3 separate regions of the Homo sapiens genome follow, and regions 1 and 2 are each linked to region 3. The links come from fine-mapping of genetic effects on gene expression. A gene starts in region 3. Each other region holds a variant in brackets. All regions are shown on one strand. Distances are between the middles of the regions.

Region 1 (8,184 bases), 120 kb after region 3:
TTGATGTGTTTAAAGAATACAACGTTCTTTGAGTTTGTCTGCTGTTTCCTTGTGATGAGGTTGAGGTTATGCATTCTCTGTCAGAATGCTGCATCAGTGACACTGTCAAGAGGCACTTGATGGCCATCTGACACTACTGGTGATCTTAATTTTGATCACTGTGTCAGGCTGTTGCCCAGTTTCCCCACTGCAGAGTTGAGGATTTTTTTCCTCTCTTGTAACTAATAAGCAATCTGTAGGAAAACAAAGGCAAAATTTTCCCTAGATTTGGCATCTGTTAATGATTCTTGCCTGACCTTTACCACAGTGGTTGCAAAGAAAGGATGTTCCTATTCTAACACCCCAACCACACTTACCAGTTAGTCTTTGGCTTTCTCCTGTGGGGAAGAGCTGGCCCGTCTGTTTTTTGTTTCGTTTTGTTTTATCCATTTGAGCACTACTTTACCTTCTGGTATAACAAAATATTTTGAGGTCATCTTGTACCTTTCTTGTCCAAACTATAGCATTAAGCACTTCTTGAGAAATCTAGTTCCATTTAGGGGGAATGATGGTAGAGACCAAGATTTGGGTGCTGAGTGTGCTCATTGCTACTGTGGTGTCTCCCTTTTGGCCCTTTTAGCAGACAGAGCTAGGAAATATATATGTGCATACACACACATACACACACACACACACACAGATACACATATTTTCGACATCATGAGTATACACCAATGCCTTCCATTTCAGTCCATCCTCACACAGTTCTTTTTTGTCTTCCTCCATTCCATTTTTGTGTGTCCCTCCTTCCATAGTGAGACACCTGTTCCCAGCAGCATCAACACATTTATTCATTTGCTCATTCCTCTAATACAATTCAAAATAGTTTCAGAGTTGCTTCACCTCTACTACTATGGTAAGCAAACCTTGTAAAAAGAGTTGGGAATTTGTTTGCAGTTCTCTCTTTCTGGCCTAAGACCATATATTATGGTCTTATGGACTTATATAAGTCATATATTGTCTTTGTAAGTTACTTGGGTTCTTTCTTTCTTCCTGTTCTTCTTCCTTTCCCTTCAATGTGGTTATGTTATTTATTTGGACTAAAATTACGCTCATTTATTTTAGTTTACCTTCAATTGTAGGTTTCTTCCCATTCCCATTCTTAGTATTTTAATTTTAATTTGTAAATATGTAGAATATTAACATGCTGTCAAAAATCAAAACTGTAAAAAGATACCCTCTTTGGCCAGGCACATTGGCGCATGCCTGTAATCCCCACACTTTGGGAGGCCGAGACGGGCAGATCACTTGAGGTCAGGAGTTCGAGACCAGCCTGGCCAACATGGTGAAACCGTGTCTTTACTAAAAATACAGAAATTAGCCAGGTATGGTGGCAGGCTCCTGTAATCCCAGCTACTTGGGAGGCTGAGGCAGGAGAATCGCTTGAACCCGGGAGGCAGAGGTTGCAGTGAGCTGAGATCACACCACTACATTCCAGCCTGGGTGACAGAGCAAGACTCCATCTCAAAAAATATATATATCCTCTTTAATGTTTTAATTTGATTCCCATCTTCCCTTTTATGAAGTAAGAGATTTATAACTAGCGAAAGGGCATTTATTGTAACTGTATTCAATTTTGTGGTTATTTAAAATCCTATCTATTGAGATTGTAAGGTAACTAAATTTTCGGAAACATACTTCAGGCTCAGTGATTTGTAACTTTGATTCCTGGAGATAGTAGATCTCGATTGTTTTTTCATTCTTATAACACACCAGAGAGTGACTGTCCAGTGTTTTCAGGAACTCTGCAGAACGGGAGTTCTGCAGTGGCCAGTGGAGGTGGGAGTGCAGGAGGGACGCAGGTGTGCTCCCCAGCCCATTTTGAGAACTCCTGCTGTGGGATTAAGGAGAACATTAGAACCTCCCAAATGTGCCTATACAAAAGGCCAGTGGCTGTGTGATAAGACACAGCAATTATATCAAGTAAGCAAACACAAAAAATTTTAGTTCCAGATTAATAGAAGCGAATATAAATACTACCTTAGTCCCATGGTTTGCAGCTTCCTTTATTTGTGGTTCAGCAAAGGTGCCTGTGTTGGAATTCTATAGTTTGATGATATTCTTGGCAGCATGTCTGAAAAGCCACACAACTAGATGATTTATGTCCATCCTGTATTCCCCATTTCTTTTTTTTTTTTTTTGAGATGGAGTCTTGCCCTGTCACCCAGGCTGGAGTGCAGTGGTGCGATCTCGGCTCACCTGCCACCTCCACCTCCCAGGTTCAAGCAATTCTCCTGCTTCAGCCTCCCGAGTAGCTGGGATTACAGTCACCTGCCACCACACCCGGCTAAATTTTTTTTTTGTATTTTTAGTAGGGTTTCACCATGTTGGCCAGGCTGGTCTCGAACTCCTGGTCTCAGGTGATCTGCCTGCCTCAGCCTCCCAGAGTGCTGGGATTACAGGTGTGAGGCACCGCGCCCAGCCTTGTGTTCCCCATTTCTAATACCATGTATACTGGGTTTATAAATCTTTAATCTAGGATGAAGCTGTGGCACACCAGCTGGTAAAGAGCTAAAGGTATCTAGGTGGAAAATGTCATGATATAGCCGTGTCTTTTCTCTTTGCCTCAGCCTTAATACAGATATTGGCAGCTGCTGCAGCTGAGCGAGATGTGGTTTATTTCACCTTTGGGGACTCAGAATTGATGAGAGACATTTACAGCATGCACATTTTCCTTACTGAAAGGAAACTCACTGTTGGTAAGTAGGAGATACTCTTGACACTTGGTATCTAGATGGATTGTACACCATTCAGTGGGAACACTTGCTAAATCTGGATGAATCACAGTGGGTACGAAGAAACAAAAGCATGGCTCTAAGCAGGAAGGACAAACCCTCAGAGGGGCAGCATTTGCAGAGTCTTTTTGTTCTGGCAGAGTTTCATCCACAGTCTTGATAGGGTATATCAGCTTACTAAAGTAAGGTCAAGAAGCTGAAGTTGGTGTTCATTTTTACTTTTCTGTCTATAAAAATCTAAAATGGGAAAGATGAATGAGGGTAAGTTCAGATCTGAGAAGCCCCACTGTCCTGTTTCTCAGACCTGCCAGCGCTCATCCAGTGTGCTTGCTACCTCAGGAGCAAAGTGTATAACGAGGGCTGCCATGACAGTGCATAACGAGGGTGCATGGACAGTGTACCATGGATAGCCTGTTGTTATCATGAGCAAAGAAGTTGTTTCTTTAAAGAGTGTTAAAAATCTTGTTTAATTTATGTTGGGAAAGCCTTTCAGGCATATGAAATTCATGCTGTATTTTCAAAAGCCAAGTCTGAGCATATGCCATTTAGATTAAGATAAAACTGGAGTGTTCTTTCTAAGGTTTTTTC[A/T]ATTACATACTTTAATGTGCCTCTGGTCTGACCTTTTGCTCTCCAGGAGATGTGTATAAGCTGTTGCTACGATACTACAATGAAGAATGCAGAAACTGTTCCACCCCTGGACCAGACATCAAGCTTTATCCATTCATATACCATGCTGTCGAGTCCTGTGCAGAGACCGCTGACCATTCAGGGCAAAGGACAGGGACCTGAGGAGCCGAGCGAATAGCATCTCCTCCCACCTCCCACCAGAGACGTCCTGTTTGAGCTGTCAGGTGTAATATATGAATTGACTTAAGTTAATATAAATGTGTACATAATCCACATTTGTAGTCAAGGACGCAATCTCTTCCACACATGTGCAGTTGTCAGTTGGTACATCTAAACTCCCTCCATCCTGACTCACGTGGACTTAGATATGTTTTGTTTCTATTTTCTTCTATTTCAGTTTTTCATTCTTTGATGTTTATTTCTTTTGTCCATCAGATCTCTTGTGAAATCCCATGGAAGGTTGTGCTCAGCCTGTCGGGTCTCTTTCTTCCTGCCCATATATTATACCAGTTGCTTCTGCAGCCCGCAGATGCCAGCGATGCCAGGAAACAAGTTGAAATCCAGGAATCTCTTTAACTGATTTTGCTAAAAATCTCCCTGTGAGCCTTCCACTCAACTCTTAATATGCTTGCATTGTTTAAGTTTTTAAATTCTGAAAATTAATAATTAGGGTTTTTTTCATATGTGTTGCATAATGCAAACCTCCTAGGTTAAAATAGTTTCTTTATTTAAGATAGAATAATTTCCAGAAATTGTACTTTTGAGGTATCATTTTTATCTGTAATGGTTTGTCTGTCTTTTTTCCTCTGATCAGTATTTTTTTATACCAGTTTTGGAGACTGGCTGAGATGAAAGGAAATGTGGAATAAAAGGAGGTTTTCCTGATGTGGTGTAAAGAAAACAGATTCAAGAGAATTGAAGATTTTTTTTGTTTCTTGGTACTTTTTTCTTTTTAAATTAGGACTAATGTTTCTTTTGTGGTGCTTGAGGCATATTCATATAACCAAAGTTTGAGAACTGGGAACTTCATGCTGATTTGTACATATTGAAGTTTCTCTGGTATTCAAAGGTTATATAGTGAATGAATTTTCATTAATAAATCACTTTGTCAGAAACTCCCATATCATCTATATTTTATATATGTATATATAAACGTATGCTCTTTAAGTGTGTCTATATGTGAGCACATAAAATCTAAATAAAATTGGACTGGTGGGAAACAATTAGGTTTAGGCATTATTTGGGTTCTGTTTAACGTCCTTTATCACAATTATGCATTTTTAAATCTGGCGACAAACATAAATAATAATGTCTTTCAGAGGTTAAAGTGAAAGCCAAAGCCCATCCTGTGTTAACCGAAAGTGGAGTTTCATCACAGAAGCACTTACTACTCAGATTTCCAAAACAATCCTAAACCACCCTGTTGTTGTTCTGGTTTACCATCAGCTGTCAGGAAACGCTAGTGGCGGTCAAATCCTATTCGTAAGGCACTTCAGTGGATGGCCTGACCTCCTGCTACTGGCAGGAAAAAGACAGGGCCTTGGCTGGTGGCCATCACACTTTTTGTTTATGTAGAGATTGAGAGGATAGTGAGATTTGGCACCTGAAGGCAGCCACTTGTCACTGAAGTTTTTTACCACAATAACTAAGATTTTTAGTCATCTCTCAAATTTGGAAGAATCTGTCTTTAGTTCTGTTGATACTAAAATCTTTCCCATTCTTTGCTTTGGTTGCAGATTCATGGTTGTTTCATGTCCTCACTTTTTCTAGCTCCACACTCGTCTCCTCCTGTGCAGCCCAAGACTAAGTGACCCGTTCTTTAAAATGTTTCATGAATAGGGTAGGTTGGTTCTTATGGTAGAGAAATCATTAATCCAAGTAAGAAGTCACCCAGCTGGGTATTCCAAAACACAGAAAGTAAGACTCTTTTGTGGAGAGCTGTGTAAACAAATGGCCTAACTCCTAACATAAATGTAAGATGGGCCAGCTAAATGCCCTTTGATGACTTAATGTAGGAGCTAAGAGCCAGTCAGTGACTGCCATCCCCATTCCACTGGGGCCTAGACTCTAGGAAAGTAGCACTAGAGGTTACAAAGTTATATTCTAATGGAAATGTTACATTTCCCTGTAGTGAATCCATACAAGTAGGGCAAAAGGTGAAGTTTCTTTTATTGTAGCTGGAATTATATTACCTCAATCCAAATAGTATAATTTCATCCATAAAAGACAAAATTAGCTTAACAAGTGAACTTTACTTGGTTATCAAAGTATTTTAAAATATGGAGACCTTGGGGATAAATTAATACAGGAGGTTCTTGGTGGTAAAAGGTGGAGACCATCATTGTGGAATCTTGTATTTTCTATTAAGGTTTGTAATAGTCCTACAAACTTGAACATAAATTTTTAATATTTGGGAAGGAACATTCACTGAAGAATTGATAATAGACTAAAAAATATAGCTGTTATCAATTAATACATGATCTGTCCTTGAACACATATTCACCATTATGTAAACCTCACATTATTTCAGCTTATTTATTCCACAGATACCAATAGACATGTTTTCACATTGTAGCATCTCCCAAATCAAAATACTTCTAAAAATTGGTAGTATGTCGGCCGGGCGCAGTGGCTCACGCCTGTAATCCCAGCACTTTGGGAGGCCAAGGTGGGTGGATCACCTGAGGCCAGGAGTTCGAGACTAGCCCGGCTAACATGGTGAAACCCCATCTCTACTAAAAATAAAAAATTAGCTGGGCATAGTGGCAGGCATCTGTAATCCCAGCTACTTGGGAGGCTGAGGCAGGAGAGTCGCTTGAACCCAGGAGGTGGAGTTTGCAGTGAGCCGAGATCATGCCAGTGCATTCCAGCCTGGGTGACAAGAGCAAAACTCCATCTCAAAAAAAAAAAAAAAAGAAAAGAAAAGAAAAGAAAACTGGTAGTATGTGTCACAATTTGCAGAAATTTTTCCTATTGGTACATAAAATTAAGACACATTTTACAATCTATGGCATCTTGTATTTGACAAAACGTGGTAATTTGAGTAACAACTATATGCCAGTCACTTTAAAGTTTTGGAGCTTATAATTGTGACCAAGATAGACTGAATCCCTGTTAACGAGTTTATACTCTACCAGGGAACATAGACAATAGCTACAGATAAATCATGATTATTGTAAGATTCTGTAATATTAGAGTGGGGTAGTCAGGAAATTTTTTTTAAAGGAGCATTTCGGACATATACAAAAATAAAATAGGGTAATATACCTGTCACTTATCTTCAATATTTATCCGTTCATGGCTAATCTCACTTCCACCTATATTCCTACCCATTTACCCATGCCAAATTATTACAAAGTTCATCCCAGACATTATATTTTATCTGTAAATCAGTATGTCTTAAAAAGATGACCACAGGATCATCACACACACACATCAAAATAATCGGAAAAGGACTTCTGATTCCAAAAGATGGAATAAACATACTTTTCTCTATTCTTTCTTCTAAACTCATTTAAAAAACCCTGAACATTATATATAAAACAAACAAGAACACTTTGAAAGTTGGAAAAAAGAAGGCAGAATTGCTAGAGACCTTGGGAATCAAGGAATAAAATAGTGGTGAGTTCCCTGGATTTTCTTACTGCCTTGTATATCCCATACTTAATACCAGTTACTGGAGAACCCAACAACCTGGAATGGCTGTATGTAGACAGAGGCTCAAGAAGAGCCCATTCTCTGTAGCTAAAGGACCAGGAAAGTGCAACCAAAAGCAATGACACATTGTCTACAAGACAAACACAAAAAAGGAAAACTAACAGAATTAGTTGCCAGCAGACCTGCCCTGATAAAATGGCTAAAGGAAGTTTTTTTTGTTTTTGTTTTTGTTTTTTTTAAACAGTGCAAAGGTCTTTTGTTGTTGTTGTTGTTACACACCTATTATGGCATGAATTAGTAGAGAACAGGTTCTGGCAGCTCAGGCTCCTTCCCATTGGTTCTCAGAAAGTGTGCTTCTCTGAGAAGAACAGGCTGGCGCCTCAGTTAAGCCCAGGTACCTTTCTCTTTGGCTTCCTTTTTTTCTGGTCATTTTCCTTCACACTTCTCAAGACGCTATCTCAACCTTTAGAGTCCTTACTACACTCAGTATGCACATTAATCTCTTGACAAGAGTATTCCCCTTAATTTGTTTACAACAATGCCAATAGCATGGTGGGTAACATTGTGGACTCCCAGTTTTGCCATGGGAACATTTGTGGGTATTCCTTTTCAAACAGTTCCCATACTGATGTCTATGGTATGACTTTTCTTGTTAGATTCGTGTGTATGTGGCCAAAGGAACAACTGCATGTTATAAAAGGTCCAGAGAACATATATCAGGTGCCTCTCCTCCTTTTTGTGTTTGTCATTTTGGTGAATTATTAGAAAATTGTGGTTCTGGCTGAAATGCTAAAGAAGTTCTTGAAACAGAAAGGAAACCATCAATGAAGGAATCTTGGAAGATCAGGGAGGAAGAGTAGAAACAGTAAAAGTATGGGTAAATACAATACACCTCTGTGGGTTTCGAAATTACATTTTTTGAAGCAAAATATAATTATGTCTATTGGGGTTTTCACTGTATGCAGAGAAAATAATTGTTATAAATGTGGGAAAGAAAAGGGGCATAGAGGTAAGGTTTCGGCTCACACAAACAATTAAAATGTTGATGCCAGTAGACTATGAAAAGCTATACATAATACAATGTAGTAGCTAGAGCAACCACTAGAAAGGCTATGAAAAGAGATAT
Region 2 (8,184 bases), 100 kb before region 3:
TACCTGTTTTATATCTCGTGATGTTCAGTCACCAAAGGTGATGTTCACAAGATTGTCTTTTCTGACGGAAGACATTTAATGTAATATATTAATTTAAAGATGAATCTCTTCAAAATGGTTAGGAATAAGTATGACTCCCACACGATAGTGTATGCTCCTTCAAATGAGTTAGGCCAGCTAGGGGGGAAATGATTTCTCAGCCATCGCTAGGTTCATGGTTGAGTCCCTTAGAACAAATGACAGATTAACCAGAGAAAAGTGTGCAAGTTTACGTAAGATAAGTTTTACCAGACACAGGAGCCTTCAGAAAGAAAAACTCAAGAGAAACAGGAAATCCTGTGTCAATTTGATGCTGTCTGATGAAGAAGCGGACAGTTTTGGGGAGCACGATTAGATGAAAGGGGTGTGACCTGATGGGAATAAGCTGGGGGGAGCTCAGCAAGGCCTGTGTGGTCAGATCATTCTCTGCATCTTTACAAATAAGGAGGCTCCTTTCCTCTGGGAATAGGGAGGACTGGAATGAAGGTCTTATGACCTACTCCAGAGAGGGTTAGAGGATTCTTCTATGTCCTCCTTCAGAGGAGAAGGGCCAGGGAGAGGTCAGAGACATCTTTCTGCTTCTGTTTTCTCAAATGCCAAGGTGTCATATTTTGAGGTAGCATGTCCCGTATACCCCAATGGCCATATATACTAGTATCTTGTTAAATGACTACTGTGTTTCATTAATTTAGAACTATAGTTAGGAGGAGTTACATATTGAGGTTAAACTCCTTTTTGAGGGAGTCTTAACAATATTTCTGTTTGTGATCTGGATAGATACTACCAAATCAGTTAGTTTAGTTGCTAACTCAATCAGATTTAGTAGCAGGGAATCAGATTTAGCTGTGCAGAAAAAGACTTTAAATATGATGACATAAAAAATCCTCAGTGTTAAACATCTTCCTGTGTTATAATAATTCCTCTTTTTTTTAACATTGTAGGCAAGTTAGGAGCGGGTGAAGTGGATATATAAGTCATAGATATGTTCATGTTCTTACTGAAAGCAATTTAAAAATTCCGAAGCAGATTGCAAAAAAAATGTATTAAAAGCTTATGCGGCTGGGCGTGGAGGCTCACGTCTGTAATCCCAGCACTTTGAGAGTCTGAGGCAGGCAGATCACTTGAGGTTGGGAGTTCGGAACCAGCCTGACATGGAGAAACCTTGTCTCTATTAAAAATACAAAAAAATTAGCAGCTTGTGGTGGCGCATGCCTGTAATCCCAACTACTCAGGAGGCTGAGGCAGGAGAATAACTTGAACCCAGGAGACGGAGGTTGTTGTGAGCCGAGATCGCGCCATTGCACTCCAGCCTGGGCAACGAGCGAAACTCCGTCTCAAAAAAAAAAAAAGAGAGAAAAGCTTATGCAACACACATGTGAACAAGACACAACGAAAAACTGCTAGCAATCCTTTTACTACAAAAGTCTGACTCTGGCCTTTAGAAAGCATTTAAGGAATTCCCACCCAGCTGTGCTCACATTTCCACATCAAGGAATTCCCAAGCATATATAATTTGTGTTTTCTACTCGAACATATGAATTTATGATGGATTATCCAGTTTTTTTCTTTTAAACATTGTCAGTGATTGTTCCCCCTGTAGCAACAGCCAGACATCAGTGTAGTTGCTCCTACTAGAGTATTATAGTGGTTCAGGGAAAATAAAAACATTACCTAAAGCTTGGAGCAAAAAGATATGCAGAGGAAAGATAGCCAAGGTTCTAGAACAGGGGCGTCCAGTCTTTTGGCTTCCCTGGCCCACACTGGAAGAAGAAGAATTGTCTTGGGTCACACATAAAATGCACTAATACTAACAATAGCTGATGAACTAAAAAAAAAAAAAAAAAAAGGTTCATGCATAAATCCCATAATGTTTTAAGAAAGTTTACAGATTTGTGGTGGGCCGCATTCAAAGCCATACTGGGCTGTGTGTGGCCCATGGGCCACGGGTTGGACAAGCTTGTCCTAGAACAAAGGCTGTCAACTTCGGCTGCTCACTGGGATCCATGGGGAACTTAAAAGAGTGCTGACAGGCCAGGCACAGTGGCTCACGCCTGTAATCCCAGCAGTCTGGGAGGCAGAGGTGGGCAGATCACCTGAGATTAGGAGTTTGAGACCAGGCTGGCCAACATGGCGAAACTCCGTCTCTACTAAAAAATATAGAAATTATCTGGGCGTGGTGGTGCCTGCCTGTAATCCCAGCTACTCAGGAGGCTGAAGCAGGAGAATCACTGGAACCTGGGAGGCAGAGGTTGCAGTGAGCCAAGATCGTGCCACTGCACTGCAGCCAGGGCCACAGAGCGAGACTCTGTCTCAAAAAAGGAAAAAAAATAAAAAGAAAAGACCTAATGAGTGCTGACAGTGGATCCCAGCTCCAGAGATTCTGAATTAATCTGGTTGGGGTACAGCCTCGTCATTGGAGTTTTGTGATGCTCTCTAGTGGATTTCAGCATTTAGTCACTGCTAAACATTGAGGAGCACTTCTCAAACCTTCATGTTTAGGAAATCACCTGGGCACCCTGTGAAATGCAGGTTCTGACTCAGAAAATAGGGGCGGGGCCTGAAATTCTGCATAATCTGCTGCTGGCTTGTGGACTCCACTTTGATTTGTAAGACTCTAGACTCCAGAGATACAGCACTTATGCAAGTGCTTGGGAGTTCTTTGATTTGAAGGGGTGTGAGCACAGTCGAGTAGAATTTCCCTAAATGCTTTCTAAAGGCCACATTCAGACTTGTGGTAAAAGGATTACTAGCAGTTTTTCATTGTGTCTTGTTCACATGTGTGTTGCATGAGTTTTTACACTTTTTTTTTCAATCTGCTTTAGGATTTTTAGAATTAAAATGTCATTCTTCTCTGGAGTTGGAAGTTTTTGAGTTCTTGGTATTTTTACATTCGGCTTCCTTATAGCCTCTGTAATTAATGTTGATCCCTTGAAATAAACAAGTCGCTTGTCGTAATATAGTGCAGAACCACAGTAGGAAGAGATATCATGGCAGATGTTGGAGGAAGAAATCATGGGAAGCTCTGTGAGGTCAGAGAGCCCAGCTGTCTAGATTTGAGTTCAAAGGAAAGTCTTAGGCATGAGCTTTCTTCAAGACTGATGCACTAAGTTTAATACTTAGTTTAAATACAACTTAGTTTAACAAATATAAGTTTTATTTTACTTCCCATGTTTTATAATCTAAATTGCCATTGGACTTTTTTTTTTTTTTTTTTTTTT[TG/G]AGACAGAGTCTCGCTCTGTCCCCCAGGCTGGAGTGCAGTGGCGTGATCTCTGTTCACTGCAAGCTCCGCCTGCTGGGTTCACTCCATTCTCCTGCCTCAGCCTCCCAAATAGCTGTGACTACAGGTGCCTGTCACCGTGCCTGGCTCATTTTTTTGTGTTTTTAGTAGAGATGGGGTTTCACCGTGTTAGCCAGGATGGTCTCAATCTCCTGACCTTGTGATCCACATGCCTCAGCCTCCCAAAGTGCTGGGTTTACAGGCATGAGACACTGCGCCCAGCCTATGGCAATATTTTTAATGGCAGCTTCACATTCTGGATATCTTTATGTTGGGGAAAAAGTTTCAAAGGTAACTGCTCTTCTGTAGCTAAGCTTTTTTAGAGCAGAGGATGGAGCAAATTCTGAGTTACTGAAATTACATATTTAGCGCTATTGCCTTGTTTAGCTTTAACTTCTATTTCATCTTTATAGTTGTCTTTTCAGACGTTTTCAGAAGAGATGAGAGAAATGCTTTGGGAATTGATTTGGAAATCTTTTTGCTGTCATTACTTTTAATAGCTAGATATATGTTTTAATTGTAAAAAATTCTGGAAATACTTTTTTCTCTACCTGCCCCCATTTTTTTTTGTTTTTTTTCTGAGACAAGGTCTGGTTGTGTTGCCCAGGCTGGGGTGCGGTGGCATAATCATACCTTGCTGCACCTTTGAGCTCCAGGACTCCAGTGATCCTCCCACCTTAGCCTCCTGAATGGCTGGGACTACAGATGTGTGCCATCATGCCCAGCTAATTTTTTTTTTAATTTTGTAGAGACAAGGATCTTGCTATGTTGCCCAGGCTGGTCTCAACCTTCTTACCTCAAGTGATTCTCCCACCTTGGCCTCCTGAATTGCTGGGATTACAGGCATGAGCTACCGTGGCCAGCTTTTTTTCTGTTTTGTTTCTTGTTCCCCTTCTGTTTTGTTTTTTTTAGCTGTTTTTCCATCCCATCTTTAAGTCTTCATTGCCCCCTCATTTTCCAACATCATGAGTCCCACAGCATGCTCAGCTAAGCACGACCACACACCATTTCAAGAAGCTGTTCATGGACCCAGCTTTTAGTACTGGCTGGGTCTTTGTCCTGCTGCAGCTTCCATTTGTTCCTCAGCTACCCTCTAGGCATCCAGTCTGGCTTAACCAGATTTCATGGCCTCATTTTGTCCTCTGCTACAGTGATTTCTACTCCTGAGGAGAAGCATAACTATCTTCTAGAGGGAAACATTTTCCTTTTGGTTATCAATCTTAGTTCTTTTAGGATATTGGAAATTACCCCATTGACTGGACCCAGACTTATGGTGGAAGTTCCAGCACAATTAATACTGAACGGGGTTGTGCTTTTTCTTCTGGCATATAATTGAATTATCCATTCTCATTATAGGTGAAGGACTTGCAAATCTGTTTGTTATCTTCTACCCTCCCCCAGCCTATTATTTTCAGGGTCTCACTATGGAAGAACACTGTGGTGAAGGAAACAATCCAGATTCCTTTGGCAGTCATAGTCACTCATGTCTTTATTTCTGTCATGTGCATTTTGCAGTCCTGACACCTGACTTCTGTTGCTAGAGCCGCAACTATGTAGGTAGGAGTACTGTTGGCTTCGGGGATACACACACTGGTGACCCTATAGGACAGTCTTATTTGATATAGCATAAGTATGTTTTTAAGAATTCATGTTATCCAAAATTATAAAAGCAGTTGTTTGAATGAGTGAAAGAAAGGGGGTTAAGTTTAGAGAGCTCCATACAAAGTCATATATAAGCAATGCAGCTTTTAAATTTAGCTTTTATTTAAGAGCAATGACCCTTTACCACTATCACCAGCAGTATTATTAGCCTGGTACCTTGTATTACTCTAATACCCATCATTTTGAAATGTGGTGCAACAACACTCAAAAGAGCTATGCTACAAGAAACAACTTTCCTTTCTGTAATGCCCTCCCTTTAGGATCACTAGAAGTTTGAACAATGCAATTCAGATTCCCAAATTAATTATCTTTCCTATTAATATTATAAAAACTCATAGCAGATTCCTGTATGTGCATGTATGTTATGAGTTGGATAAACATTGATGGACTTCATTTGGAGTGAATCAGAATGGGATTCCTGTGAGAAGCCAACATCCCTCTAAACAAACTTTTGGAGCATGATATGGCTTGGATGTTTTGTCCCCTCCAAATCTCATGTTGAAATCTGACCGCCAGTATCGGAAGTGGGCCTAGTGGGAGGTGTTTGGGTCATGGGGGTGGATCCTCATGAATGTCTTGGTGCTGCCCTTGTGGTAATGAATGAGTTCTCACTCTGATTTCACATGAGATCTGGATTAAAAGAACCTGGGGGCTAGGCATGGTGGCTCATGCCTGTAATCTCAGCACTTTGGGAGGCTGAGGCTGGCAGATCACAATTTCAGGAGATGGAGACCATCCTGGCCAACATCTTGAAACCCTATCTCTACTAAAAATACAAAAATTAGCCAGGTGTGGTGGCACGTATCTGTAGTCCCAGCTACTCAGGAGGCTGAGGCAGGAGAATCGCTTGAACCCAGGAGGCAGATGTTGCAGTGAGCTGAGATCGCGCCACTGCACTCCAGCCTGGGTGACAGAGCAAGACTCTGTCTTAAACAAACAAATAAACACAACCTGGCACCTCTTTCTTCTCTCTCTCTTGTTCTCTCACCATGTAACATGCTGGCTCCTTTCCTCTTGCCATGATTGTAAACTTCCTGAGGCCCTCACCAGAAGCAGATACCAGCATTATACTCCTTGTACACTCTACGGAACTGTGAGCCAAAATAAAACTCTTTTCTTTATAAATTGCCCAGTCTCAGGTATTCCTTTATAGCAATATGAACAGGCTAACACAGAGGATAACCAAATATTTATTAATGTCTAAAACTTGGAGAATACCTTACCTATAGCACAGGTTTGTTCTGAGGATCAATTGAAAGACTAAAATATCTATTCTTTCCTTGAACAAAGCTTTAATGAGTACCAATATGTGCAAAAGACTGTGCTAGGTGGTAGAGATCAGATGTGCTCCCTTCAGTTTAGTTAAAAATGAAATTGTTAGGGGCTGGACACAGTGGCTCATGCCTGTAATCCCAGCACTTTGGGAGGCCAAGGTGGGCAGATCACGAGGTCAGGAATTTGATACTATTCTGGTTAACATGGTGAAACCCCATCTCTACTAAAAATATAAAAAATTAGCCACGCGTGGTGGCAGGCGCCTGTAATCCCAGCTACTCGGGAGGCTGAGGCAGGAGAATGGCATGAACCTGGGAGGCGGAGCTTGCAGTGAGTCAAGATCATGCCACTGCACTCCAGCCTGGGTGACAGAGAGAGACTCCGTCTCAATAAATAAAGAAATAATAAAATAAAGAAATTGTTATGGGTGCAATATATGATGTAGGTAGTAGTGTAAAGGGGGTAGGTATAAAAGCTTTGTGGAATAGTTGATATTGGAGCTGAATGTTGAAAGGTGATTAGGTGCTTGTCAGGTAACCATGTGTGCACAAGATAGTAAGTAGAGCAGAGCAGGAGCAACAATATAGAAGCTGATGTGTTCTGAAGCTGCAGATGCAGATGATTAGAGGATAGAAGTACCAGAGATGTTGCAAGATGAGGTGAGGTTGTAGATGAGTAAAATGGGGCCGGAATGTGAGATGCATAATCTTGGGAGCATTTCTAAGGAGTCTGAATTATATTCTATAGACAGGGAGAAGTCATTATAGGACCTTGAGGCAAGAAATAACATGATCAGTTCTACATTTTCAAAAGATAACTGTGCTCCACATTATGTGTCATTAGGGAAATACAAATTAAAACAGCAGTGACGTACTATTACATGACTGTTACAATGGCTGAAATCCAAAACACTGACAACACCAAAGCTGGGGAAGATGGGGAGCAACAGGAACTCTCATTCACTGCCAGTGGGAATACAAAATGGTACTTTGGAGGATTGTTTGGCAACTTCTTACATATTCTTACTGTATGATCCAGCAATTATGCTCCTTGGAATTTGCCCAAGTGAGTAGAAAACATGTTCACACAAAAACCTGCATACAGATGTGTATGGAAGCTTTTTTCACAATTGCCAAAACTTGGAAGCAACCAAGATGTCCTTCAGTAGATGAATGTATTAATAAACTCTGTACTATACCCAGACAATGGACTGTTATTCAGCACCAAAAAGAAATGAGCTATATCAACCCATGAAAAGACATGGAAGAATCTTAAGTGTGTGTTACTAAGTGAAAGAAGCCAATCTGAAAAGGCCGTATACTATAAAATCCCGAATTATGTCTGGAAAAGGTAAAAGTATGGAGATGGTAAAAAGTGTAGTGTTTGCCAGGATCTGAGGGGAGAGAGGAATGAATAGGCAAAGCACAGAGGATTTGTAGCACAGTGTATGTATTCTGTGTGGTACTGTAATGGTGAATACACGTCATTATGCATTAGTTCAAATCCGTCAAGAGTGAACCCTAATGTAAATTACAAACTTCTATTTATGTGTGAAAATGATGTGTCACTGTGGGGTTCATCAGTTGTAATAAATGTACCACTCTGGTGCAGGTTGTGATAGGAGAAGGCTGTGGGAGTGAGGGTCATATAGGAACTCTGTAATTTCTGCTCAGTTCTGCTGCTCAAAAAATGAAATCTATTCAAAAAGGAACCTTTTCATGTTTAGACTAACTTAGTTCATTTCCCTCATTTAGTTCCTTCATTGTTGAGGTTTCATTGCAATGCATTCTAAAGTCAAACATAAAATTATTTTAGAACTTTGTGTGACTTCTCTGCTTGCTTAAACATCATTGCTGAATAATGTAAAAATATGATACCCTAATCTAGTTTTCATAAACATTTTTTCAAAATTGAAATTAAAACTGGCTTCA
Region 3 (8,184 bases):
TTTTAGGATAAAAGCTTGTCAATTTCTGCAAAAAAGCCAGCTGGGATTTTGACAGGCACTGCACTAAATCTGTTGGTTAATTTGGTGAGCACTGCCATTTTAATATTAAAATTTTCAGGATCATAGCATGTGTCTTTCCACTTAATTTCAATAATGTTTTATAGTTTTCAGAATATGTTTTGCACCTGGTCCATTTATTTCTAAGTATTTGCTTTTTGATGTTATTGGTAATCAACTGTTTTTTGTAATTTCATTTTTGTAGTGTTCATTGCAACTGTCTAGAAATATATTTATGTATATTGAACTTGTATTCTGCAACTTGCTGAACTCGATCATTAGTTTTAACAGATTTTTGTGATTTCCCTTGTGATTTTCTATAGATAAGATCATGTCATTTGTAAACAGATAGTTTAACTTCTTTTTCAACTTGAATGCCATTTAATGTACTTGACTAATTGCCCTGGCCAGACAATGCTGAATATAAATGAGAGTAAATATACTTATTTTGTTCCTGATCTTAGGGAGAAGGCATTCAGTCTTTCACCATTAAATTATGTTAGCTTTGGATATTCTGTAGATGGCATTTAACAGGCTGAAGTCCCTTTTATGTCTAGTTTTATTTATTTATTTAGAGACAGGGTCTTACTCTGTTGCCCAGGCTGGAGTGTAGTGGGGTGTTCTCAGCTCACTGCAACCTTTGTATCCAGGGTTCAAGCGATTCTCGTGCCTCAGCCTCTCAAGCAGCTGGGATTACAGGTAGGCACCACCACGCCTGGCTAATTTTTGTATTTTTAGTAGAAACAGCGTTTCGCTATGTTGGCCAGGCTGGTCTCAAACTCCTGGCCTCAAGTGATCTGCCCACCTCAGCTTCCCAGAGTGCTGGGATTACAGGTGTGAATCACTGCGCCCAGCCTAGTTTGTTTTTATAATCATTAAAGGGGGTGTTGGATGTTGTCAAATGATTTTTGTGAATCTATTGAGATAAGCATGTGGTCTTTGTACTATATTCTTTCCTTGATTGCTTTATTATAAATTGATATGGCACAATACATTAATTTTCAGATGTTAAAACAACCTTGCTTTTCTAATATACCCAAGATATATTTGCTAATATATCTTGGATTCAAAAAGATACTCTTTGAAACTTTTGATGCTTAGTCAAAAAAACCCTGATATTGTAAACTGAGCTTTAAAACACACTTTGCCTGTAATCCCAGCACTTTGGGAGCCTGGCCAACATGGTGAAACCCGGTCTCTATTGAGAACACAAAAATTAGCCAGGCGTGGTGATGGGCGCCTGTAGTCCCAGCTACTCGGGAGGCTGAGGCAGGACGATGGCCTGAATTTGGGAGGCTGAGGTTGCAGTGAGCAGAGATCGCGCTACTGCACTCCAGCCTGGAGGACAAAAGCAAAACTCTGGCTCAAAAACAAACAAACAAACAAACAAAAAAACCCCACACACTTTGTAACTAGGCATCCCAATACTTTTATTGGGGTGCTTTCAAAAATTAATTCTGCTCTGGTTTTAAAAAATAAGCTTTTGAAGGGAGTTAACTGGTTTCAGAGAGATGCAGGCCAAGCTCCTGGTGTTTGTGAGGAAAAAAGGGTGAATGGAGACCAGAGACTTACTGCCTCCAGAAGTGTATGTCATAGTTCAAGTCAGCATAGCACTTGGCGTTTTTTTAAAAATGGTAAAATAATGCACCAAACTAGTAAAATCTTAGTCTTACCTGCACGAGGTATCGTGGATCCACATTTAAATAAGGACACAGAGGGTTCATACCAGTTACTAGAGAGAAAACAAAATGTCACATTGCAACAAAATTCTTTAAGTTAATCCAGTTAGAGTTAATCCAGCTCCTGATTGTTACATGTGTTTGCAATTTTTATAGGCTCACTGAAGGCAGAAAATTTTTTCCCATTTTATCCTCCCTATCTGTCAGTTTGGGGGCTGACTCATCCTGAGACCCTCAATCCCAAACCAGGTCTTCCACTGGTGGCTCAGGCTTTTACACCAATAAGATAATCGCAGTGTCATAGATCTGATTTTTGAACTTACAGGAAGTGTAGTCCAGGCCATTTACAAAGCTAATTTCTTTCACTTTACTACAAGAATGCTTGGTGACTATATAAATTACAAAATAAGACTGAGAAAAGACTAATCAATTCCATGGGAAAAACAGTGGTTGGGTTGGGTTTTCTGACTGTGTACATGTTGTATCTAACTATTTCAAGGCAGTTCCTTCACATATTACTATTAACGATTGATTTACTGTGGCAAGGTTGAGAATCCTTGGGTCATTACCACAGGTATGTGGGTCTGTGCAAAAGAAAACACAAACTTTGAGAGGGCCAGACCTGAATTCACTAACATTGAAAACAGTAAAACCTATCATCTTTGGATCCTTCTGTATCTCAGCAGTTATTTACAAACCTATGCATCACCCATGCCTCTATCTTTTCATCAATTAGGAGTCCTGCTTGTTCTATTTTTAATACCCATTTTGAATTGTGTTACTTATCTTCTCTATTGCTACCATCCTAGTCCAACCATCATATCTCACAGCAACAATTTCCTAACTCCTTGCTTTCTCTTACCCCTTCAATTCACTGTCTACATAGCAACTACGTGATTTTTCTTAAGAAAATCGAAACTCCTTACCATAACTTACAAAATCCTACATTAGCTGTCATTCCCTACCTCTCTGATTTCACAAGCTTCAATTGATCCAACTCCCTTGTAACTACGAAGACAGACTGGCCTAAGAGCTGTTCCTTAAACATGCCAAATTTGTTTTGTTTCAGGACATTTGCACTAGCTATTTTCCTGGATACTTGCCTCCCAAGCATTTGTACTGTATTTGGGTCACAGCTCAAATGTCAACTCCCTTGAGATGTTTTCCCTAATCCGCTCTAAAATGGCATCCTGCTTCCATCACAATCTCATGACTCTGCTTTATTCCCTTTACAGCACTTATCACTAAAGGCAATGTTTTAATTTATGTTTGTTGGTTTACCTCAGTATTATGTAAGCTCTGTGAGCGCAAGGGTCCTCTTTTCAAAAAAAAAAAAAAAAAAAAAAACCCACAAAAACCACTATAGTCCTGCCCCCAGAAAAGTAGCTAGCACACTGTAAAAGCTCAGTAAATGGTGTTCATTCCCTGGTCCCCCAATTTACCTTCAAATCTTAATCAAATTAATTTAACAATATTGTCACATTAAGGAAGTGTATATGCCCTTTGTGCTCTGAAACTCAGAAATACTAAGATTAATATGAAACTGTGTTCTAAACAGGTAAAGTAGTAGCTCAGGCCTAGGAATCCCAGCATTTTGGGAGGCCGAGACAGGAGGATGGCCTGAGTTCGAGAGTTTGAGACCAGCTTGGACAACACAGGGAGACCCCATCTCCACAATAAGTCAAAAAAAAAATTTTAAAAATTAGCCAGGTGTGGTGGTACGTACCTAGATTCCCAGCTACTTAGGAGGCTTAGAGGGGAGGATTGTTTGAGCTCAGGAGTGCCAGGCTTCAGTGAACTATAATCATGCCACCGCACCCCAACATGGGTGACAGAACGAGGTCCTGACTCTAAAAACAAACAAAAAAAAAACGAAACAAAACACCATGTGTTGTAGATTCAGTTTTTTGACAAAGGTGACACCAGGGAAATGAAAGGTCTTTTATATTTTTTTGCACTAGAGTCAGTCTGAACATATTTCGTTGTTGTTGTTCCTTAGTATAAAATACCTAGAGAAATATTACAAGGATTCTCTAAAAAGAAAGTACTTTCGTAAAGGCTTTATCCACGACCAACTGCCTATCTTTAGGTCCAAGTTCTATTTATCTAGTTGAACAACCACAGTTACAAAGTACCAAAGTTCTGGAAAACATATTCACAAGACCGAGGAGAGGCAAAGGCAAGATATTTATGCCTCTGTATACCTTGATGTTGCCTATTTCCTTTCCTATAATTCTTACCTGGCTTCTTTCTTCATGTCTATATATCACCTTTAAAGTTCAGCTTACTTCCTAGCTCCTAAAGAAGGTTTCCTAGCCTGTCCCAAGTCATATTTATTTCTCACTTACATGCAATATTACTGAATATTCTGCCCTTACGGCTACTTGGAGGCTCAGAATATGTCACTGTGTACTAAAAAGTTAACTACGGGCTTGCTATTTGGAATACATTTACTCCCAAAGCTGGGCTCTACTCTTAAGGGTCAATCACACGGCCCACCACACACAAAACGTACGAGGCTTGGATATAAACCTAAGAAAACATGCATCATCTCGCGAGTCCAGGTCAATCACGGACAGCTTCCCCAGGAGATCCGTGGCCCTTTTTTAGGCCTTTCTATCTTGAAAGAGCAGCCATGCAGATACACTAACCCCACCACTGGTACTTAAGCTTGTAAACGCCAGCAAGGAAAAAAAAACCAACAACATAAAACATGGGACGCGCAACTTTAGTGTAAACGCAAGAACCAGTCAGAAATAATCGCAAGCTAGGCCCCATACTTACGCGGGACGCCAGCCAAATCCGCGTGCGAGTAACCTGCTTCGCCGGCTCCGAAAAAGCCGGCCAATACCCCTGTGGTTTTGTCGCCGCTTCCCCCGCCTCCTTCCATGGTATCGCAGCAAACCGAGTGGTTCCCGCCGCTGCCTCAAGCCTGGGTGGTCCGCTGGGCCGTTACTCCTCAATAACAGCGGGTAACCCCGCGTTGCCAGCGCCTACTTCACACGCTGACATTCCGGGCGCCGGTTCCCGTTAAGCGCCACACTTCCGCTTTGCGGCAGTGTGCGCCCCGGAAGCCGGAAGCGCCTGACGGCAGCTTTCCGGTGGTGGGAAAGTGAACGAATCCCGAATCAAAGCGGCGCATTGAGGCAGGTGGGGTGCCAGTGGAAGAGGGAAGGCAGGCGAGTGTTTACGGCCTGACTTGGGAGGCCGGCGGATCAGCAATTGCAGAAGCAGGCAGCGGCAGAGAGGGAATGGTGCAGGCAGGCGCTGAGAAGGAGGCGCAGTCCATCTCTCTCAGGGTTAGTGAATGAGGCTCTCCGCCCGGGCCGGCCCGGGGACAGTGCGCTGCTGGTCCCAGCATGAATGCGGGCCCCGGCTGTGAACCCTGCACCAAGCGACCCCGCTGGGGCGCCGCTACAACTTCGCCGGCTGCTTCGGACGCCCGGAGCTTTCCCAGCAGGCAGAGGCGCGTCCTCGACCCCAAGGACGCTCACGTGCAGTTCAGGGTCCCACCGTCCTCGCCAGCCTGCGTCCCAGGGCGGGCGGGACAGCACAGAGGCAGCGCCACCTCGCTTGGTACGTGGGAAAATAAAAATCTTTGTCCTTCGCCTCGGCCCGAACCTTCTGGTCTCAGTCTGAGGACCCAGGGGCTCCAGTCACTCCTTTCTGGTCTTGTGTGCATCGTCACTCTTGAGGTCCACTTGCTGAGCTACCAAAGCCACTAGTGGGTGAATGGGGCCGCATTTTTCCCAGTGCGATTGATGTGAGAAACTCTGATGAGCAGTCACTCACAGGGCGGAAAATGGCAGGAGACTCCACCACCTGTTTGCTTCTTCAGGTTTGATTGAGAAATTGCCTTAGTCGTCAAGGAGATCTAATTGTGTATGTAAAACAGTAGGGCGCTTCAGCCTCTAGATAGGAAGAAAACAACTTCACTTGTTCAGATTCTGGGTCCCAGGGTGCAGAGCTATTAGTTTAAGCTGGCATTGTACCCGTCCCTGGTATACAGTGTTGAACGAGAGAAACTTGGCCTCTGCCTTCATACCTTAAAATCTATCTGGAGAGATAGACGATAGCAAAAGTTAATATAATAAAAGGTAATGGATGTTCTGATAGATGAATGACAGATTGTTTTACCTAACTGAATTTATGGAATCGAAAATAGTCCTCCAGAAGATGAGATGCTTATTCTGAGGACTGTAGAATGAGTAGGAGTTAGATGAAGAGGAAGTAAGAAGTGTTTCAGGAGTGCAACCGAGGCCGGGCGCGGTGGTTTTGCCTGTAATCCCTGAGCTTTGGGAGGCTGGGGCGGGTGGATCACCTGAGGTCAGGAGCTCAAGACCAGCCTTACCAATATGGTGAAACCCCGTCTCTGCTAAAAATACAAAAAATTAGCCTAGCGTGGTGGCGGGCAACTGTAATCCCAGCTACTCGGGAGGCTGAGGCAGGTGAGGCAGGAGAATCGCTGGCATCCGGGAGGCGGAGGTTGCAGTGAGCCGAGAGGGCACCATTGCACTCCAGCCTGGGCAACAAGAGCGAAACTCCGCCTCAAACAAAACAAAACAAAACAAAACAAAAACAGGAGTGCAATTGATATATAGAGTGAACGCAAGAGAGTGTGAGAGATGAGGCTGCAGGGTGGTACAGAAAAGTCAGATCAAATTGGATATGTAGACATTGCTAAGGATTTTGAACTCTAAGGGCATTGATAAGCTACTCAAGGGTTTTTAGTAGGGGAGTGACTTGATTAGACTTATTTATTTGTTGAAAAGTCTGTGTGGCTGGTGTGTGGAAAATAAAGAATGGATTGAAAAGGAACTCAAGTGGAGCATCAAGACTCAGTTAAGGAGTTAATCTAGGTTGGAAATAATTGTAGCTTAGGCCTGGATGCTGGCAATAGGGAAGGGGATGGATTCATGAAAGAATGGGATACTTGAGAAGAAATATTTCTGTGCTGGAGAAGTAGATTGGGGAGTTCGTGGCATAAACATTATAATGGATGCTATGGGCATAGATAACATAAACATGTAGAGAAAGTAAAGGTGACCTAGGGCAGATGCCTTAGGAACACCAAAGTTTAAGAGTAGACTGAAGAGAAGCGGCTGTAGAGGTGGGAGGAAAGCCTGGCTTGTGTTGTGTCAGACAAAGGAGATCATTTCAAAAAGGATGCATTCGTTAACAGTGTAAGAGGCTGGGCAGAGCTCGGGCAGTTCTCTGGTGAAGAGTCTACACTTAGATGTCTTCATACTTAGGGGCAGTACCAAGTAGACTTGCACTAGGCCTTGAAGGATGAGGAAGATTTGCTGTATAAATCAAGAGGAGAAAGAATTATACATGCAGAGGAAATAAGACATGCAAAAGTTGGTAAGACTGGAGCATAAGATGACAGAGGAGTGTCTGATGAGGCTGGGTGGCAGACAGGAGCTTATGAAGAAACTCAAATTCCATTTTAAGGAATTTCAACCTTATTCTGTGGTTAATGGAGAAACCACTAAAAAGCTTTTAAGCGTGGGAATACCATTTGGTTAATATTTTAGAAAAGTGGCTTTTGGACTTTTCTAACTGCAACCCACAGCATAAATTTTATCCAGTACACAGAGTAAGAAATATATGTAACCTGGCAAATAAGCCATATTTATAACTGAAATAAATGTTTCATGAAATAATACTTAACCTTACTATGTGTGATGCATTCTTATATTGTCTGTGTTATTTCATTGAAAAATGACTGGTCATTTGTAGTTTGTAGAACACTGGATAGTCAAGGCTGTAGACAGGGAGACTAGTTGCAAGAAACAAATGGCAGTTGTCTAGTAAGCGATGTGTTTAAAGGGTATGAGGAAGGGATGGATTTAAAATTTAGGATGTAGATTTCAGAGAACTTGGTATAGGGGAGAGAGAACTGAAGGTGAACTTCAGGTATACGTTCAGGTGTACTTCAGCTTCTGTGACTGGATAATTTGTGGTTTCATTAACCTTATTTGCATGTAAAGGAGGAGGAGTTAGTTGCAAATAGGGGTGAGGGCAGTCAGTCCTCACTGGTTGGATCTTAATTAAGATTTCTGCAGAAGAGGTACCAAATGAATACTTGGGGCTGTATTTCGCATGTTTAAATGTTTTCTGTATACCTGGCACAGGACACCAATTAACAGAATGTTCGAAGACTATATTTGTATCAAAAGCCCATTGTTTGAATTTTTGGGATTCCTTTAGGAACTTGGTATTTAAATTTTTATATATAATTATCTTAGGACAAGTAGGCGGGGTAGCGAAATGGATATTTATTCAGTATCTTTAAATTTTATATTCTTTATCTTCCTGGATATATTTCTTGTATTGACTGAAATCGCTAATTTTGCTGGGCATGCACCTGTAGTCCCAGCTACTTGGGAGGCTAAGGCAAGAGGATCACTTGAGCCCGGGAGTTCCCGTCCAGCCTGAGCAACAT

Alleles and levels. Positions count from the first base shown, and alleles are read on the strand shown. Sizes are in standard deviations (SD) of each study's normalised expression. Not every link is listed here.
As copies of A replace T in region 1, the expression in lymphoblastoid cells of the gene that starts at base 4,794 in region 3 goes up (large effect, 1.3 SD a copy in GEUVADIS).

The links. PIP is the estimated chance that this variant, and not a neighbour inherited with it, causes the effect. A credible set is the group of variants that fine-mapping cannot tell apart.
Region 1: its variant is the best candidate, but not a certain one, in a credible set for the expression of PARG in lymphoblastoid cells (GEUVADIS, PIP 0.58).
Region 2: its variant is the best candidate, but not a certain one, in a credible set for the expression of PARG in neutrophils (BLUEPRINT, PIP 0.56).

The regions. Positions count from the first base shown.
Region 1 is chr10:49,814,719-49,822,902 of GRCh38, reverse strand. PARG (poly(ADP-ribose) glycohydrolase) reads left to right here. Exons shown (of 18, transcript NM_003631.5): 17 at 2,610-2,738; 18 at 3,409-4,624. The coding sequence ends at 3,563. It also overlaps the pseudogene RPL21P89. Among named protein-coding and RNA genes, the nearest start is that of OGDHL, 56 kb to the right of the region's middle. The variant A/T (reference allele first, on the strand shown) is at 3,363.
Region 2 is chr10:50,039,936-50,048,119 of GRCh38, reverse strand. It overlaps the pseudogene FAM21EP. Among named protein-coding and RNA genes, the nearest start is that of WASHC2A, 24 kb to the left of the region's middle. The variant TG/G (reference allele first, on the strand shown) is at 3,258.
Region 3 is chr10:49,938,637-49,946,820 of GRCh38, reverse strand. It overlaps PARG (poly(ADP-ribose) glycohydrolase), which reads left to right and starts at 4,794. Exons shown (of 18, transcript NM_003631.5): 1 at 4,794-5,312. The coding sequence starts at 5,096. It overlaps TIMM23B (translocase of inner mitochondrial membrane 23 homolog B), which reads right to left and starts at 4,768. Exons shown (of 7, transcript NM_001290117.2): 1 at 4,521-4,768; 2 at 1,731-1,789. The coding sequence starts at 4,626. TIMM23B-AGAP6 (TIMM23B-AGAP6 readthrough (NMD candidate)) reads right to left here and starts at 4,768. Exons shown (of 17, transcript NR_158661.1): 1 at 4,521-4,768; 2 at 3,463-3,586; 3 at 1,731-1,789. RefSeq lists an enhancer at 4,884-4,953.